2 separate regions of the Homo sapiens genome follow, and region 1 is linked to region 2. Evidence: fine-mapped expression QTL. A gene starts in region 2. The other region holds a variant in brackets. All regions are shown on one strand. Distances are from middle to middle.

The links. PIP is the estimated chance that this variant, and not a neighbour inherited with it, causes the effect.
Region 1: its variant is fine-mapped to the expression of GRIA3 in thyroid (GTEx, PIP above 0.99).

What each region holds. Positions count from the first base shown.
Region 1 is chrX:123,307,630-123,315,629 of GRCh38, reverse strand. The region is part of intron 3 of GRIA3 (glutamate ionotropic receptor AMPA type subunit 3); the gene reads right to left. Among named protein-coding and RNA genes, the nearest start is that of GRIA3, 130 kb to the right of the region's middle. The variant C/T (reference allele first, on the strand shown) is at 4,210.
Region 2 is chrX:123,178,297-123,189,170 of GRCh38, reverse strand. It overlaps GRIA3 (glutamate ionotropic receptor AMPA type subunit 3), which reads right to left and starts at 4,893. Exons shown (of 16, transcript NM_007325.5): 1 at 4,527-4,893; 2 at 3,181-3,339. The coding sequence starts at 4,635.

The sequences.
Region 1 (8,000 bases), 130 kb before region 2:
CCCATATCTCAGAAACCTGATATACAAAAATCTGAACTCAGAGCCAGTACTTCAGGCTATTACTATTCATATTACAAAGTATACTTTCATTTAAAAATAATTCATGGAAAGACTTCTATAGCACATTTGAATCCACATTTTGTTGTTTTGTTGTTTGTTTTTGTTTTAACTTGATTTAAACCCTTTTATTTTCCATCAAAATCAATATAGTGATTGTCTAAATTTGAGACGCTAATACAGAAACTGTTCTGTGTGTGAAGAGTTTGATATGGGAAGATCAAGAACCCCTTTATATTTGCATATGGATGTCAGTCTGTGAATTTTATGGAACAAGGTAAAGACAAATATTCACCGACATTCAATCCTTAATTTACCGTTAGCAAATTAATATTTCCCTGAGACTTCCATTCCTTATAATTGTATTTGTTTAAATTTTCCTTTAATTAAGAGCTGACCCTCTGCAAATCTTCTTCTCCTTGCAGCTGCATTATTAGGATGAGTACTTGGCTAATTTGTGGAATCATTGAACAGAAGGTGACCCCAGTTTCCCAGTTGTTTGTGCTTTTTCTTCTCTCCCAATACAAATTGTCTCTCAATCCAAACGAAACTCTTATACTAGACTGTCCATGACTGATAACAGCTTCAACTGTGACCTCCTTCATGAAGGATGTATGTTTTAATATTAGAACCAAAGACTTACAATACAGGGGCAAATTGTAGACAGCCGTAAGTGATTGATCAAGTATTGTTTGGCAACTTGAGCTAACAGGTACCCCAATATCTTACTTGAGGCATTCCAAGTACTCCAATAGCTCACTCCAGGAGGCAGCTACTGACTACTAGTCAAGTGTAACCTTGGCTCTGAAGCTGGCAATGCATGTAATCCTGCCTTTTCCATTTTTCTCTTTCATCTTGTTCCTTATTTGAACTTTGTCTCCCTGTTGGTGAATTATGTAGCTCCATTCTCCTCTCTGTGAGCTAAGAAAACATGCCCAAATAGATATGTCAGTTTCATTGAGTGAAAGTAAACTTGCTTTGCATTGTCAGCTGAAAGGAAATTTAGAAGACCATCTGGAGTAGATTTACTTAACATCTGGGAAGAGCAGAATAGGCAAGCCTCTGATCCTCACCCACACAATATCTGATATAAAAAATAAAAAAAATAAAAATAACAGAAAGCAACTGGGGTTTGGATTGAAGGGGATGCTACAATGATTGTGTGTAGTTCCTTCATGTTTCTGTTTGGTATCTAAATAATTGTTCTGGGATAGACTGCCTGCGATGCAAACTCACAGAGGGCAGGAGTCATCTCAAAGTTTCTCCATGGACTGTTGAGCTCTTAACAGATGCCATGAGAGGATTAATCATGCCCATGAATAGGGTTTCTTACATGACATTTCCTCATTCGGCATCTTAATCCCTTTGAAATCCGTAATTTCCAGCTCTGATCTTGTGACTGCGTCTCCTAGAGAGCAAGTAGTGAGTGACATGGATGTTAGTAAGCACTTTATAGATACCCGGGGCAGAGAGCTGACCATAGATCACAACCAGAGAATGCACTTGCCAGCCCTAGTTGGGTGGCAGTGGGGGGAAGGCCTTATGCATGATTAAAAGGGGGCTTCACTTATGGGTTGGAGGAAGGAGTGCTACCAGTCAGCCACAGTACATCTTCTTCCCAGGTCCCATTTATTCCACATGGAACCTAGTGACTACAAAGAAGAAGATGACCACCCACCCTGCTGCCCCTTCTCCAGCAGAAGATGAACTTTGAAGAGATTCCCAGAAGTGAGTATATTTTATATTGAGCATCCATACCCTGAACTTCTGTGCAGAGTAGTTCACATTGTGGCCTGTGCCTATGGACTTGTAAAGTGAACTGACTGAAGTGAGACTTGAGCTCAGAAAGTATGTGTTTAGGTTCCACTAAGCAAAAGGCTTCTCATCAGGCAAGTCACTTATCTGGGAACATTCTTCAGCATTCTCAATTTTTAAAAAGCAAGGCCAAGATAAACCTCTTAACATTTCTGAGTTCTGGGTGTGAGGTATGAATGATGGTTACCAGTGAGAAGGAAAAGGGGGAAGGAAGTGGGGGTGAATGTATGCCAAAGATGAAAAGTGTCTGGATCTGAGTGCAAAGGACTGTAGCTTATTCTGCCTGCTGTGCCTCCAGGAGTGCTGAGACTCCTTGATCCTAATACCATTGGAGGGCTGTCAAAGGTAATATTAAGGGCAAACTCTTGCCTAGAGGGTACAGAGGAGCCAAAGATACAGTCCTGAGGACAACAGAGAACATGCTGTTCTCTTGCGGAAGACAAGTTCTTTTTGACTTAATACTGTGGTTTAAAATCTGCTTGGGAAACACCCAAAATGGGGTTCAAAACTCACAAGATAAATAAGTATTTTCATGTGCCATCCACCATACTAAAGAAACCCACGTAAAACACCCCCAAGATCAACTCACTTTGATTAGTTGTTTACTTTCAATTGAGTTTTTTCCAATGGGGATATGAGAGTGAATTTGGCATTATGGAGGCGGGTTATAGGCTAATGTCAAGGCCTTGGGTTCCAGAAAGAGTGGCTGAATCTTGTGTGAGCTGCAGAGAAGTCAGGCTGTTTGTGGTGGCCAGAGTTCTTCCAAGTTTCTCAGAATTCTCAAATATGAGAGCCAGAATTAGTGATGGTCCCAATCTCTTCATTGTGCCAATAAGAAACTGAAGCCCAGAAAGACAAAATGGTTTGCCCCAATGATAGATCCCAAACTTGACCATGACCACAATACTTGTCTTCTTTTAACTTTCAATATTAATGTAAAACAAAGTTTCTGTGGCATTTTCTGAATAAAGATTCATTTTGATATAGACTAAAAGTTAAAATCCAATAGGAATGTCATGATGGATATATCCCTTGCACTTTGCCTACAACACATCTGTGACTTCCTTAAGGGCTCTTCTCCTTTCCTTCAGTACCTTTGCATGGAGGAGTGAGAGAGCCCACAAACAAGTTTGTGTGTTAAAGCATATCTTCCTCCTCAAATCTAGCTGGGACTCCCATTTGGCACTGAGGCCCACTCTAATCTACGCAGGCTCCAAAGCCTTTGGCTTGGTTCACCCTGCTTACTCACACAAATTCTCATGCAAGGCACAGCCTTCTCCAGCATTTTCCATCTCTCATGATTTACTCTGGTTGCCCTCCACCACAAAGCCTCACTTCCATCCCACAAACCTTTCATTCATTAAGACTCACCTTAAAATACGTATCACTGAACAGATCATCTGATTGAGATAGTGGGAAACGAAGATTCCGAGCTCTCACATCCATCTTCTATTAGCCTGAGAATCTTAGGCTATAGATGGTTACTCCCATCTCTGAGGGATTATAGCTGAATGCCAAATTTAAATCATTTTTTGACTAAGAGATTTGTGGTTTTCTTGTATTGTGATGTATAATGTTTTTACTCTCATCCCTCAGGTTTTAAATTGAACTATTTTCCCTTGGGCTGTCAAGGCGGGGTCAAGGATAGAAATGAACATTTATTGTCTACTTTGGGCTGAGTACAGAGCTAACAATGTATACACATTATCACGTTTAATTCTTCCAATCTTAAAGAGTACATAGTTATCCCAAATAACCAGGTGAGGAAATTGAGGCTCAGAGACGCACATGTTCATGAAGAAAAACACTTAACTAGTCTGGATTCTAAGTTCGCACTCTTATTTCTTCCCCCCATCAGTGACTGAAATTATTCCAACATGTGCAGTTGTCCAGGAAAGTTGGAATCATACATTTTTCTATGTGTTACTCCATGGCAGGGAGGGCTCTAGAACACATTGTTGTGTAAATACCTGAAGATGCCCAGGATTTTTCAGGCTCACAGGGATACAGGCCATGCAATCAATTGTAAGTCAGTGCTTAAAAGAAACACAGTCATGGTTCTCTGGCTAATGGTATGTTTCCTGTCAGTTAATCACCAACTTTGTAATTGAGCTGGAGTTCCTAGACTGGGCAGGTTTTATTATTGTTTGTGTCCTTACTTATTCTTCACACTCTCTCAGATATCCCTGCCTCCAAAGCAGCGGTTTCTTCTGACTTTCTTATTTCTGTCAAATTTCCTAGTTACAAAATTTGAATACTATCTTGGAGCCTTCCACTGCCCTAAGAGTACACAAAGTCAAATATATTAATTCTTTGTGTTCTGCCACATTCTTTACG[C/T]TCTAATTAGTACCAGCTATTCTGAAGTTATTATTGGTACATGCTTGGGCTACTCCAGCAGTCCTCTTTCATGCAAGCTTCTCACTAAGGTCAGCTTTAACTTCTTCACTCTTTTGATTATGTTACAGCCATGCTCATTCTCAAAAACTTTCCAACCTTTTTCTTTGCCCATAGGAGAAAGTTCAGAGAAGGCATTATAAATGTTTGAACTTGCGTGCAATCTAAGATTTACCTTCTAAAAAAGTCTTGGGGACCTCATTAAAATACATGAGCATGTGGTTGTTTTTTTCCATTCTGGGACTCAGTTTCCTCATCTGTAAAATGATATTCTATTCCTGGGAGTCCCATAAGGATTGTATAAATAGGTACTGTCAGAATTTGCAGGACAGATCAAGAGAATTTCTTTTTTTTTTTTTTTTTGACAGATTCTCACTGTGTTGCCCAGGATAGAGTGCAGTGGCATGATCTCGGCTCACTGCAACCTCTATGTCCTGGGTTCAAGAGGTTCTCGTGCCTCAGCCTCCTGAGTAGCTGGGATTGCAAGTGTGTGCCACCACACCTGGCTAGTTTTTGTATTTTTAGTAAAGACAGGCTTTCGCCATATTGGCCAGACTGGTCTTGAACCCCTGTCCTCAAGTGATCCGCCCGCCTTGGCCTCCCAAAGTGTTGGGATTACAGGTGTGAGCCACCATGCCTGGTTGAGAATTCTATTTTGATAAGAGACAAAAGGAGGCTAGAATTTAGAAAAAAAGGAAAGATAATATGAAAGGAGGAGAGATAGAGAAAATATATTTCTAAAGATTTCTGCTCCCTTACCCTGATTGTTCCCAAATAATATTTCACTTGGAAATTAACACTTTGTCTAGAGCTGTGGAGCATAAAGCAAAGAGATGTAAGCAAAGCCAGCTCACCATTTGATCTAGTCTTCTTTGCCATTGATGGCATAGATTACTAAGAAGGTTGGCTGGCCAAGATGGAGGGAAAAGTCTAGATCTCTGGATGAGAAGTAAGCTGACTGGCACTAGCAGTCATCAAAGTCATGACTTTGGCTTCATTTAACCAGGGGATATACCCAGCTGAGCTAACTATAATATTTGCAAAGAACAAACAACCACATGGCAGTGACTGAATTTAGGAGTGCTTCAGCAAACTAGAATCTGGGGCTGGAGAGTTTACAGGGGGAAAGCCCTGAGTCACTTAGAGTTAAGATGACAACTCTTGAGATGGACTTCTGGGAAACCATACTGGCTAGGAATTTATTTGAATAAAATGAATCTAATTATAAATCACATAGCTAGCCATCATAATGACTGGGTCAGTGCAGGGACTAGTTGGCCATGCCCAAAGAGCTTCTATGCTCATTCAGGCAAAGTACTCATTGACAGAACTTAACAAAATGGTTCAGTTCCTCTTGGCTGGGCATCTGATCCCCTTGGCCAGTGTCTTAAGTCTTATGTATCATTTTGAGGAAAATGGAGTTGTCAGGTCCTGTGAAGATGAAAGTATTTATTAAGCTCTCCAGGAGAGTTTAGTAACCTGCCTAGGTGGGCAGGGATAGTGGATAAGAGGGAAAAAGTTAATGAGGACTACTCCTTTAGCTTGGAGACCCCACCAGAGCCAGCAATAGGCCAGCCCAGCAAGACTTGTTTCTACACAGCCACTGGGAAATGTAGGTGTGGGGCCCTTCTGGATCCCCAAGCTGTCCTACTTTTAAAGGCATCTTAAATTTGCCAGTGTTTTTTAAAACACTGTTTGACAACCCCCTTAGGCCATAAAACATGTATATATTTTGGATCAAAACCACAAAATCATAATGCTTTGGAATCTTCTTAGGGAAAACTCCCCATCTGCAGTGTTTAACTCTGTAAATATCAACATAACAGAGCATCCCTCAAAACAAATACAAATGTTCTTTGAAGTTTATTAGCTATTATTTGAGCAAAGAACACAATCAGCAGCAATGCTAAAGAGGAAAGGATTCAAGAATTACCTTTAGAGAGAAACGAGAAACAAGGCAGTTAGTTTCTCTGGAAAACTTATGGCTTTTTTTTTTTTTTCCAGAGTATCTCTCTGTCACCCAGGCTGGAGTGCAGTGGCACGATCTTGGCTCACTGCAACCTCCACCTCCCAGGTTCAACCTCCACCTCTCGGGACTACAGGCATGTGCCACCAGGCCCTGTTAATTTTTTTGTATTTTTAGTAGAGACAGGGTTTCACCACGTTGACCAGGCTGGTCTTGAGCTCCTGACCTCAAGTGATCCACCTGCCTCAGCCTCCCAAAATGTTGGGATTACAGGTATGAGCCACTGCGCCTGGCCTGAAAATCTATGTTTAAACAACTCCAGGAGTTATACGCCTTATGCCTCAGAGGAGAAATGGGCTTGCTCTGCCTGGCATGGCACTGATGCACTGATGAAATCTGGGTCCTCTTCAAGGGGGTCATTGCTCTCCACTGAGGAGGTAAATAGCGCAAAAGGCATATTTCCTATAACCTTAAAGTTGTGGCAACTGCCCAGCTTAGCTTGCCCCACTTGGATAGAAGATTGTTTTTCTTAGCATGAAATAAATGGATTGTGGCTTGGATGATGTAGCTGCTTCCGTTGTCTCAACCACTGATGCAGATCACAGCATGAGTGATGTGGCGGCAGCAGCCATCCAGAACCACTATGAAAGTGGGTGCGATGAATGGAGTGGCTGGATACGAAATGAGTTTGGCCTGCATGATTGGCTTCAGGTGCCCAGGAAGGCTTTTTTCCAGTAACCCAAGTCCTAAGAAGAATACTCTACACTAAGGTTCACATTTGTCACACCCTCTGCACAGCCCTGGTTACCCTAAAAATTCTTTTAGCCTTAATATGAAAGGATGCTATTGTTGACTGCCAAGAAGAGAGGTTGATGTGCCACAATGTCTTATTTCAAGCAGCCAAGTCGGGTCTAACTCATTTGGGAAATGAGCATATGTTTTTGCTACTTAAAGTGTGGCCTCTACATCAGCATATCAATTACAGAGAAGACCCTAAAGATGCTCTACTTGCTACTTAAAGTATGGTCTATGGATCAGCAGCATTGGCATCACCAAGGCTGATTGTTAGAACTGCATACTCTTGGGCCCCACTCTAGACTTAATGAACCAGAATGTACATTTTAACAAGCTTCTCAGGTGATTCATTAGCCCATCAAAATTTGAGAAGCACTGGCCTAGTCATTCTTGTATAACGACTGAGAACTACGCTTTGGCTGGTTAACACAGATTGGTAATTCAAGAGCAGGAAAGGCCCAGGCTGCAGTGGAGATTATGGATGGGACATGAACAGTGTAGGGCTAGCAGGGGACCAGGACATGATTTGGCAAAGTTTAGAGAGTGACCAACTTGCTCAACCTAGGCCCAAGTCAAAGCTGTTAACATGCTGAAAAATTTATGTAGATGGATCTAGGACATACTGAGTTGCAAGTCAGGGTCTTCACTACTGGAGATATTCCAAACAAGGCAGACCCAGGGAAAATCAACACTACTGGGCTGGAAAGAACTTTTCAGTACTCAGTCCAAATGAGCAGCACAATCTCATCTATTAACCTGTTGTCCGTTGCCTTTCCTATCAGCCATGGAGGCTCACAAAGGTCTGTAGCCAACGAATTCTTGGCACCGAGACTACAGCGCACAGTGGCTTCCCACACAGGTAGGTAGGAAGGGCTGCATGTAGTGAAGATGCTGGACTGAATCCTAGAGTAGGGAGGGGCAAGAGATCCAGAGGACAGTCATCAGTCCTATCTGCCTGGGCATCTGATATGAA
Region 2 (10,874 bases):
AATGGGAACATGTGCTTCAAATCAGGTAAGTCTCTTAGATAAACTTCAATCCATCTCTGAGTTGAGATCCCAAATTAAACACCTTTCAAAGCCAGTGTGGCTCTTATTGGCCTCGTAGGACATGGAATAAAGTTGGAGTCTGTCTTAAGCAAACCTCTTGGGGGTTGTGCAAAAAAATTGGTTTCTGATGAAGAAGAGTCTTTAAATAACTGATGCCTGGGATTCATCGCAAGGAAACCTTTCAAACACATTGTCAGAGGTTGTAGGGGTGGGTGATGTGGAGGGAGAACAGAGAACAGGGACACATATATGAAAGAATTACCCTTTGTTTATTCTTTGTGTATTCGTTTACCTGCACACCTACACCCTAGAAAGTGTGTGCCTGCCTCAGGATTGAGGGTGCAGGAAAGATCATGAGAAGAGATCAATTCTAGTGCTAAGGGAAGTTGAAACTAGGAATTTTGCATAGGAATAAGGGAAAGTTTCTTTAATTTTTGCCAGCCCATTCCATATTGAACCAGATAGGAGAGGTGGTTGGCCAGATTGAGACTCATCTGTTGTTTTCTGGAATTCTCCCTAGGTCTCCAGAGAAGGACAGGCCGGAGGATACAGAGGTTTCTCTTTGCACAATCAGGGCAATCATTTGGAGGAGTGGAACCTGGGGGTCACCTGTCAGGCTCCAGCACTGAACTAGAATTTCAACCCAGTTGGAAATATTTGATCTCCGCTTCCACAAGAAAAAGAACAATTAAAGCCAGGGGTAGAAATGAGAAACACCTCCAGGGCTTCTTTGGTCCCTTGAAATACTTGGTTTCTGCATTCCAAGACTATGGTTAGACGAGTCATCTTTCTCATACTAAGCTACCAAGCAGCAGCTGCCTAGAGACAGCTTTGAGATCTGGCCCCCATTCAATGATTGTGACATTCAGAGATGACTGTTTCAGGGACCAGAGAAGATGACAGCTTTCCTCCTCTGTCTTCAGAGAAAGCAACAGGCAGCTGGATACACAACACTGGTTTCTAGCTATTTTTCCTGCGTATGTCTGTGCATGCATACATGTGTATTTGACATAACTAAGGGCAAGGTCACGTTTTCATTTTCTTTTTCTTGTTGCCCAGTGAGCCACACTCCTTCTCCCGAACTCTCAAGCCCCTAGCCACAACCCAGCCTTGTAAGTGGAAATGCTATGAATTTACGGTGAGGGATTTTGATCAATTTCTTTTCCTTTCCCCTGGTTGTTCTCTTATTGCCCTGAGAGGTAAGGCAATAAGGCAACTCAATACCAATATGGATGACTTATTGCCTTTTCCTAAACCTGAGATTTTCACATGGCAAGAATCATTTCTGATTGCTTCTTGAGTGGGGTTCTGACAGTCCAGGGCTGGTGGGTGTCAATCTGGTTTGACCATAAGAACAGGACCAAAAACCTTGGAAATCAATCATTTCTGAGAAACCAAATGGTTCTCTTATCCCAGTTCTCATCAGTGAAAAGACACTGAAGGGAGTTGAAATAAATATTATTTGTTACTAATGGTAATAAACCCTGGTAGTTTAATGTATTTAGTTTTAAATCTGTTCTAATTGATATTTAGGAAGCTGCATTTGAGATTCAGCCTCTTGACAAGATCACAGTGCTGCAGGATTAAGAGTCAGATGCGTGTTGTAAATGCTGTGGAGACAGGCTGGGATTACCAAAATAAGATGCAAAGTATAGACAGACATTTCGTAACTTTCACACTAGCTGGAATTAATAAATTCCTATTTTTGTCAATGTCAGAAAGCCAAAGAAAGTCAAATATGGAGTATCTCAGAACACGTTCATATAAGGATCTGTATCTTCAGCTAAAATTTTCTTAAAGCTGACAACTGTCATATTTCTTGCAGAGTATGTTACCCCCATCCTCTTGGCCCAAGTCTTCAAAGCCAAGAAACCTGTGCCCTTGGAGAGACCCTTTCAGTGGTTTCTGGAAACCATGCATCCTTTGAGGCAGAAGGATTTAAAGAAAGTCATATACAAAGTTTCACCCATCCAAACATAAATATCATTTCTCCCTTGGAAGAGAAAGGAAGAAAAACCCCAAATTCCAAACTACATCAGCCATAAAAGCAAAGCATATTTTATACCATATTCAGCCTCATTGTTGTGAAAACTTTTAGTGAAATAAGCTTACATGAAGTATTCTCAGTCTTTCTCACGAAACATTCCATTCAAGTAAAACCATATGTCCAACAGGCTATTAGCCATTTAGGTTCCTTTGGTTGTATTTTACAAAATGTCCCCTTTTCAGAGGAATAATCACCCGGTACAACTAAGGATTTCAGAACCGGCTTTGGGCCTGATGAATTTCTTCTCTTTCCATATTCAGTTTTCCTGCTCCAAGCCTCCTCTCCTCCTGCCCCCTCTTTGCTCTAAATTAAGAACTGTGTTGTCTTTAATGATCATGGGGGTGAACAACACTAGGGGAGGCAGAACTAGCTTTCTAAATCATCACCTGATCACCATTTTCTCCCCTCCCCTCAGTTTGCTAGGCATTCATCACTTGCAATCAGTTTGTAGTCTTATGAGTTCCTATCAGAGCTCTCTCAGTAAGTAAGGTAATATTTGAGGACAGAAAGAGGCCAGGGAACCCAGCCTGTTCTGCCCCTCAAGGTCACTTGTTTGCAGAATTTCTCATATTTGCTTCCTACACATTAGGCAATTGTCAAATTCAGCTCGTTCCTAGAGCCAGGCACTAGCTTTAACAGTCAAGTGATGTACATCCTGAATTGACTCAATCAAGAAGCTGCTGCTGCTTTTTTAAATCTCATCTGAAGAAATTTCTCTGAACAACCGTGCTATTTTTTTCTTTCTTTCTTTTTTTTTCCCCAGTTAAAAAAAAAAGAGAGAGAGTGTTGGAGAAGGAACACACTAGGTTAGCATGGAGGAAAATGAAACTTTTGCATCAAACACTATTTGGAGCAGACTTTTGCCCACTGTCTTGAGTTTTTCCCACTGTCTTAAGCCCCTCAGCAGTATCATTTGGAGTTGATTTATGCAACATGAAACCGGATGGATTAGAGCCCCTAAAATATCTACTGAAGCAATCATCTCCCAGCACATACACAGACCCTAAGTGCCACAAGAAAGATGCAAATGAGGTCCCCAACGTCCCAAAGGGAGGAAAAGCAGATCTACTTACAAGCATTTGTCACGGAAAAACTATTGGAGGAATCCAAGTGATCTACGTGGTAATTCAAATGGAAGGGCTTCTCGGTGGTGTTCTGGTTGGTGTTGTATAACTGCACGGCAAAGCGGAAAGCGCTGTGCTCCTGCACTGTGTTTCTCATGAAAAGTCCACCTATAAGCAAAGGGAACGGAGATTTGGCTTGTGTTCCCCCACACTAGGGCCAGTTAGGAATTGGGGAACAATATAGATACCGGATACCTCTCAATGATACTGGGGTGTGGGATTGAGGATTGATATTCAACCTGTGTGTCTTTCAAGACTTGTGAACTCAGATTTTGGCCAAGAGAAACCTGGCTTTTCTAGACTGAAAAGAAGAGGCTAGAGAGAAGGGAGAAGAGACGAGGGAGCCGTTTTGGGTTAGGACGATGGAACCAAGAGTGAGACTTGGTTCTTTCTTAGTCGGCAGCCTTCTTTTTTTTTAGTCGCCCCCCCCCTCCGCCCCCCGCCCATCCGCACAGCTGGTCATCTTTTCATTGTGTGAAGGGAAAGGTTGGGAAGAAAAACAATATTGTTCCCCCTGCTACCCCAACCCGTTCCCCATAGCCACCCTCCCCCGTGACAATACAGGGGGTTGGTTCAGTAATGGCAAAAATTCTAACTTCTAGACTTGTAAATACGACAGAAGCCAAGATAACTCCCTCCAGGCGCCCAGGAGCCGGGCTCCAGACAGACACAGCGGCAATTCATGAATTCGTGGTCTGCGTGACTTCGCCGCTTGCCCGCTCAGCTCCTAGTCTCACCCCCGCCTCCTACCCCATCCACCACCAACGCCTGCTGCTGCCCGGGTCTGGGAGATCCAAAGTGGGCTCCACCTCCCCCAGCACCAGCCTGTCTCCCGACAGCCGGAGACCACGGACTGAGCACCCCGGGCCCGGGTTATGCGCCCTGGCGCGGCCAGACAGTCGGCATCACCCTGGGACAACTTCCAGGAGCTGCACGCACGCCATGGCAAAGTCCAGAGCAGCGAGCCGAAAAGCCTCGACTCTTCACCCCCTTGCAGCATCCCAGCCTCCTGCTCGCCTCCGGTGCTCCTCTCGGCTCGGAAAACCTAGCAGTTCACCCCCACTAGCCCCAGGAGACCCCTCTCTTGTCCCAGAGGCTCTTCAGACCAGCCACCTCGTTGAGGCTCAGATTCCCCCCGCCCCGCCCCCCGCCCCGCACCATCTCTGCCCGGTCCCGGCCCCAGTCCCAGTTCCCAGGCCACGCAGGACAGGGACCCACCGCAGGGAAAGCCTTGCCGGGGCAGTGGTCTCGGGTGAGGGAGAGCCTGGACCGACGGCTGGCTCGCTTGCGCTTACCTATGCTGATGGTGTTGGGGAATCCTCCGTGAGAATGACCCAAAAGCCCCAGGACTAAAAAGAAGACCGCCCGGAGCACGCTTTGCCCCATTTTCTTCTGCCTGGCCATGCTACGCCTAAAACGAAGCTGACAAGAGCATGGGCGCAACTCAGGAGTCGTCAAAATAATAATAGAAAAAGAAAAAGAATTCGCTGGCTCTTACACCCCCTCCCCTTAACTTGCTCTCGCTCACTCTTCCTTTCCACCCCACACTAGTCCTCCTCCTCCTCCGCTGCCGCCGCCTCCTCTTCTTCCTCTTCTTCTCTCTCCCTCTTACTCTCTCTCTTATTCGCTCGCTCTCTCTCGCTCGCTCTCTCTTCCTTTCTTGCTCCCTCTCTCTCCCTCTCGCTCCCAGGATCTCTCACACCCCCTCCCTTCCCCCCACCTCACTTCTGTCTTCACACCAATCTGGAAGGCGGGTTCATTGGCTGCAAGCTGGGTTTGCCAAAGCGATTTCTGTCCCTATGATAGAGAGAGAGAGAGAGAGAGAGAGAGAGAGAGAGAGAGAGAATAAAATCCTAAAACAGAACAAAACAAGCAAAACACTGAAAAACAAAAATAGAGAAGCAAAAGAAAGAGAACGAAAGAATAAATTATCAAGACAATCTGAGACTCTCTCCGCGCCCCCCCCCCCCCGCAAAAGATGGTAGGTCTAAAGAGGGGGGGAAAAAAAGGAAAGAGCGAAAAGGCTCAGTGCCGGTGAATTGGGCTCTTCCAATTGGGCCAGTAGGGGGATATTGATCAAAGTTGATCTGACGTGGAATTAAAGCCGCACACCGCTTAGCTCTACTGCAAACTGCAGCCCCGGACTGCAAAGCCTAGGCGCTGGCGTTTGTCAACACCGGAGATGGGATCAATAGAAATACACCACTCCTAACGTGGATCAACCTTTCAAGCTGCAACGTCCTCCCACCCTTTAAAAAAAAATAGCTGCATTGCCTCTGTGTTTGTGTGTCTGTCTTAAAGAAGGGGGGCCTTAGGAGGGCCATTAGTGGTTACTCCGGAGTCTTTGTAGAGACTCAGAGAAGCAGTTCCCATCACAATGCGCCCGAAGATGCTGCGCATGCCCGGTCTCTGCCGCTCCGCTTTTACAGCAGAGATCCGAGGGCGAGTGAGCAACCCCCACCCCCATCCCCGCAGCTTTGGGAGGCGTGTCCCTCCCCTTAAACTAGTGCTGAGGCCGGCTTGCGGGGGCATGGGGTGGGCGGTGCTGAGCAGTGATGGGCAGTATGGGGCTGACTTCTTTGGAGGGCATAGGAAAAAGTATGTGCGTAGAGGTAGTAACTAAAAGGTTAATGAAAAGGACGCTCAGGCTCACTGACCAAGGAGGAGGGAGGTGTGGGAATGAGCTGGTCTGGGGGTGGGGATTGAAAGTTGAGGCTGGAGAAAACTGTACCTAGCTGCATTGATCCCTTGGTGTTGCCTCTGGACTTAGCAGCCTAGGCCCCTGACTGATGACCTCAGAGGTTATCAATTCTTTCTGACTCTTCTTCCCCTCTGCTCTAAGGCGAGCAAAGAACCTATGAAGTCCTACAGTACAGACCGGATTTCAGTGACGGTGGCCTTCTCCATAGCATGCTGCGGATGAACCTCCTGGGCTATAGACTCCTCTCCCTAGCCCCTTTCTCCCGCAATGAGGAAAAAGAATCCTCTTTATCTCTCACGTTTTTCACTTTTACTTTACAGTTACTGTAGAAGGCATGGGTTTTATCCTCCCCACACCTGCTATTTTCCTTTTCATATCCTCTCCTCCTGGTCTAAGTGGAACATGAACTCTCCTGCCAGTGTAAAGCGAACTGATATACATCGGGGATAAAATTGGGAATATACAGGGGATAGAAGGACCCTGGAGCCCAGCTAGTATATCAGTTGCTACAGAACTTTGGATTTGGCGAGACGTAGTCTGGAGCCTGGAACAATGGAACAAAATGGCTTCAAACCAGAAAAATTGTCCTAGGCTCTTCCCAAATTTCTATTCATTCTGATAATGCATAATTTCCTCCCACCCACCACTCATAGAAATCTTTTGTCTCCATTTTGATATTTCATGGACAGGAGTGAAGGAGAAACATGAGAGTCTGAGGAGACTCATCTTTTCAGTGGAAGAAGCATTAGGGCAAAGCGGGTAGCAGAGGTAAGGTTGGTCATCCCCTGCCAAATGTAGACAGGGACATAGCATTATTCGGGAACATGGGCTTAGGAGGCATACACGTCCAGGTTCGAGTCTAAGTCCCATCACATACAGGCAGTGTGTGACCTTGAACAACTTTGTTAATCTGAACCCCAGTTCTCTCATCTTCAAAATGGGAATATTAATATCTTTCTTTATAAGGCAGTTGTGAAAATTAAGTAAGATAATTGATATGAAAGCATCTAATTCAGTGCCTGCCTCAGAGAAAAATCAATAAATGTTAATTTCCAAACTCCCTTCCCTCTTTCTCACCTAGTAAAAGTGCCCTCTTGTCCCCCAAGTTTCCTCATGCTGTCATCCTCCTCTCTCCTCATATTCCACATAACTTCAGACTCTGCTATCAAGTCTATGCCAATGTTCCACATTAAAATCTTTCCATTGTGGCTCCTCAAAAGGCCCGGGAGACAATCTTTACTAAGATTCTAATGGCAGGCAATGACAATTTAATATTAAAATGTCACATTTAAAGAACCTTTACTCTGTGCCAGGCACTAGGTGTTTCTCCTTTTTAGATAACACAGTTGCATTTTAATAGGAGCCTTCAATGCCTTGTCCCAAAGGAACAACTTTAATGAGGAGGTTTTAGTTTTGATTTCATGTGAGTGAACAATATATTTTGTACGAGGAGAAAGTGACTTTCAGCATGTCTCACTTCACTCCTGAAAGTAGCCACGTCCCCAGCCATGCTTGGCCAGCTGTAAGAGGAGGTGGAAGAAAAGATCTGTGGCCATCTTCACTGTCATTTGGCTTGAAGAGTGATGAGGGTGGCTCAGTAACTAAAGATGAGAGGCAGAAAAGTATTTTGGTGCCTATGCACTTGAAAACCCTCGAAGTCATGAATGTAAATGCCACCCATCCCTTCCATTGTCATCCTCCCCTGCCCAATACCTTTTTCCCCTCTCTTTTATCTGCTGCCACTCTTTCAATTTTTAGCTGTCAGTGGCAGCTGTTGGCAGAGTTGGACTACTCTCATCTGAGCCAGCAGGGGCACAGTGGTAGACTAAGCATATTGCTGTTGGTTGAAAAGCCTGTATAATACATGCAAATTCTTTAGCAATCGATTCCTCACCCAAAAGAGCAGGGAGACACTTTATAAACTTCAACTTTGATTTTCCAACGAGGGGTTAGAGATTATACTAGCAGCATCATAGCCACCAGAAGTTGCCAACAAAGCCCCAAACCTAGCTCTCCCTCTGTGGTTAAGAGTATCCCTGCTGAATTTAGGATTACCTGCTAGCCTTAGTACCTATGATCTGTACTTTTAAATGAGCTCTATGATATAGTTTAAATAGCAAGAAAATAACCATTGCAGTTTTTATCAAAAAGTAAAAAGTGTACTTCTCTTCATGAGCTTTGTGCTTGTTTCAGGCTTGAGAGGTGCACTTGGATAAGCATAAAGAACTGTTGGCCAGTGGAATTCTAAGAGGTGATCTATACCGTACAGTGAGCCTCATACTTGCCAACTTCATAAAAATCAGGAAAACAACAACAGAAATCATCCTATTTCATTGGAAGGAAACTGCTATACCCTTCGAAGAAAATGAAACCAAGATACTATATCCTTTGCCTAATGGGAGCATAATTTTCTAACCATTTGACTTGATACTTTGATTTCTTCAACATTTATTGACCACCTACTATAGGCAGACTTTGCTAAGCACCAGGAATGTAAGGAAGCAAGGAACAGTTTCTGCTTTTCATGAATGTCAAGTTCAAAGGAGGAGCAGATGTATTCACTGGCAATGACAATGCAATATGGCAAGTGCTCTGAAAATGGTAAGCACCAGGTACCATGGCAGCACAGAGGATGGTGTTTAACTATCTGAAACAAGGTACTTCCCTTATCCCAAACCCTTACAAACACAAGATAGAACAAAGTGGTTTCTAAGTACCCGTCTTGCTTTTATGTTTGATCATCCTATGATTCCATGAGGTGAGATTATTTTGGGGTTAGAAAAACTGTCCAAACTTTAGCCTAGACTCTAATAAAGGAACTAAGCTAGATACAACTGATTCTTTGTGGCCATCTTTTGCACTGTCACTTCCAGATTATTTGGGAAGAATAGAGAGTTTAGCCATATCTGGAGATTCAGGTTGGGTATGACTTCTAAGAAAGCTTAGGTCCTCTGACCTACTTCTCTATAGTTCCATTTTCTCCATTATATCACCCCTCCAGAAACCTCTGTGGAAATCTTCTATCTAAGTGTTGGCCTCCATGTTGTTAAATAAATCTACATCCCTGAGAAGCTAAAATTTCAGACACAGGCCTAGTTGGAGTTGCTTCTGTTGGAAGTGTATCTATGAGTCAGAGGAAAAACCTTATTAATTTGGATTTAATATGTCCAGAAATCGATCCACCGAAACTTCTAGAAGGAGACAGTTACACCAAGTGAGTAGTGGCTATGGGAGCAATTGTTTATCCTAAATCATTTTCAGATTAGCTTGCTTTTTATACATAAGGGTATTTAGAACTCCATGTTTTCCCTGAAGACATCCCCAGGAGCCATTTGGAGGAGCAATTAATTGGAAATGACCTGGTATTTTTTGTACCTCTCTTCCAACACCTTCCTCTCTGGACTAAACACTTTCACACCACCTCCTTTAAGCACCCTCAGGGTTAGTGACCATGCTTTGAATGGTCCTATATCAGTTAGAATACTTCATGCTGCAGACAAGAACAAATCCACTAAAACTGATATAAACACTAAGGGAGACACATTGGCTCACATAACTGGAAGGGCCAAAGGTATGGCTGACTTGAGAATTCATTAGACTCAATATTTCAACAATTTCATCAAAAACCTAATTTCTTTTCCTCTCTCCTTTCTGTTTCCCTGAAGATGGCAAAATGGCTGTAGGATTTCTTGGCTTCATATCTATGTCACATCATCTTGTATTAGTTGGCAGTGAATCATGTGACTATTCATGATCCAATCTTGTGGCCAGGTAATGCCATGCTTAGGCCTGAATTACCTGAACCAGTAGCCATGACATAGGGGACCAGGATTATGACCCATCTGTGCAGTTTAGTGTAGGGTCAGTCTTCCCACCACCACCAAATTACATGATTGATACACAATGAGGGAGAGAGATATGGAGGTTGGGAAACAATCACAATAACCACTGACATCCCTGTCTTCCTGAAGGCCTGCTCCCTGGGAATTGTGGGTGGTAATAATTTTATTCTTCAAGTGTCTACAGGCCCCTGAAGACTTGCCAAAATGGTTTGTCTTTGGTCTGTTGTAGGTAGACTCCTCAATGGTGAGATCCTTCTGTTACTTTAGTAGCTCAGCCCCCTAAATTTAGTTCAAGATGCATCTGCCTGATATTTTAATTCTGTTCTTAACAGAGTTATGTTATATTGAGAGTGCAGGGTGAGAAACTAATATAGAAATAATTTCTTTTCTAGGCAAATAGGCTTCTAGAGACTTTCAGGTAAAAATCTAGAGATTCCTCCACACATTCTCCTCAGGATAAGCAGAGGTGTCACTCTACAGACTATGAAACTGAGGAATCAGAGAGGTTAAGTGAATAGCCCAAGGTCATACAGCCATGTGTTAAGGATTGGCATTTCTTATCCCTCTAGGGCTTTATTCACCAGACCAGAGTTTCCTTCATGCTGTGATACTGAGGATGTGGATAGAACTGAATCATAATAAATACATTCTGCTGGGATGGTTACATCTTAGCAAGTAATTATCCCCTGGTAGACTCTGAATGGGCTTAAAAACTGTAGATGGAAATCACATGGCTTCAGGACTCCCACTTCTCACAAAGTGACATTCTTATAAGCTGCAATGTCCCTCTGATGGGAAGTGTTAATTTATTGTGAATTATTCCAGGTTACCTCCCAGAGATAATATTCTTGACATTTTTATTAATGTATACCATTTTACCCCTCTGGGAAAGTTAAAAAATGATCACTGGGAAACAGCATAGGCAAGTCAGGGGGAAATTAACCCCCAAACTAAAACTAGCCCCTCCTCCCAGCCCTACCTGGGGAGGGGTTGCATGTTTGAGTAGATTTGAGAGTTCTAGAGATGTTGAGGAATTATTGGTGCCAATTGTTTGAGGAGTTATGCTTTATACTCAACTGGAAAAATTTCCATTTTTTGAA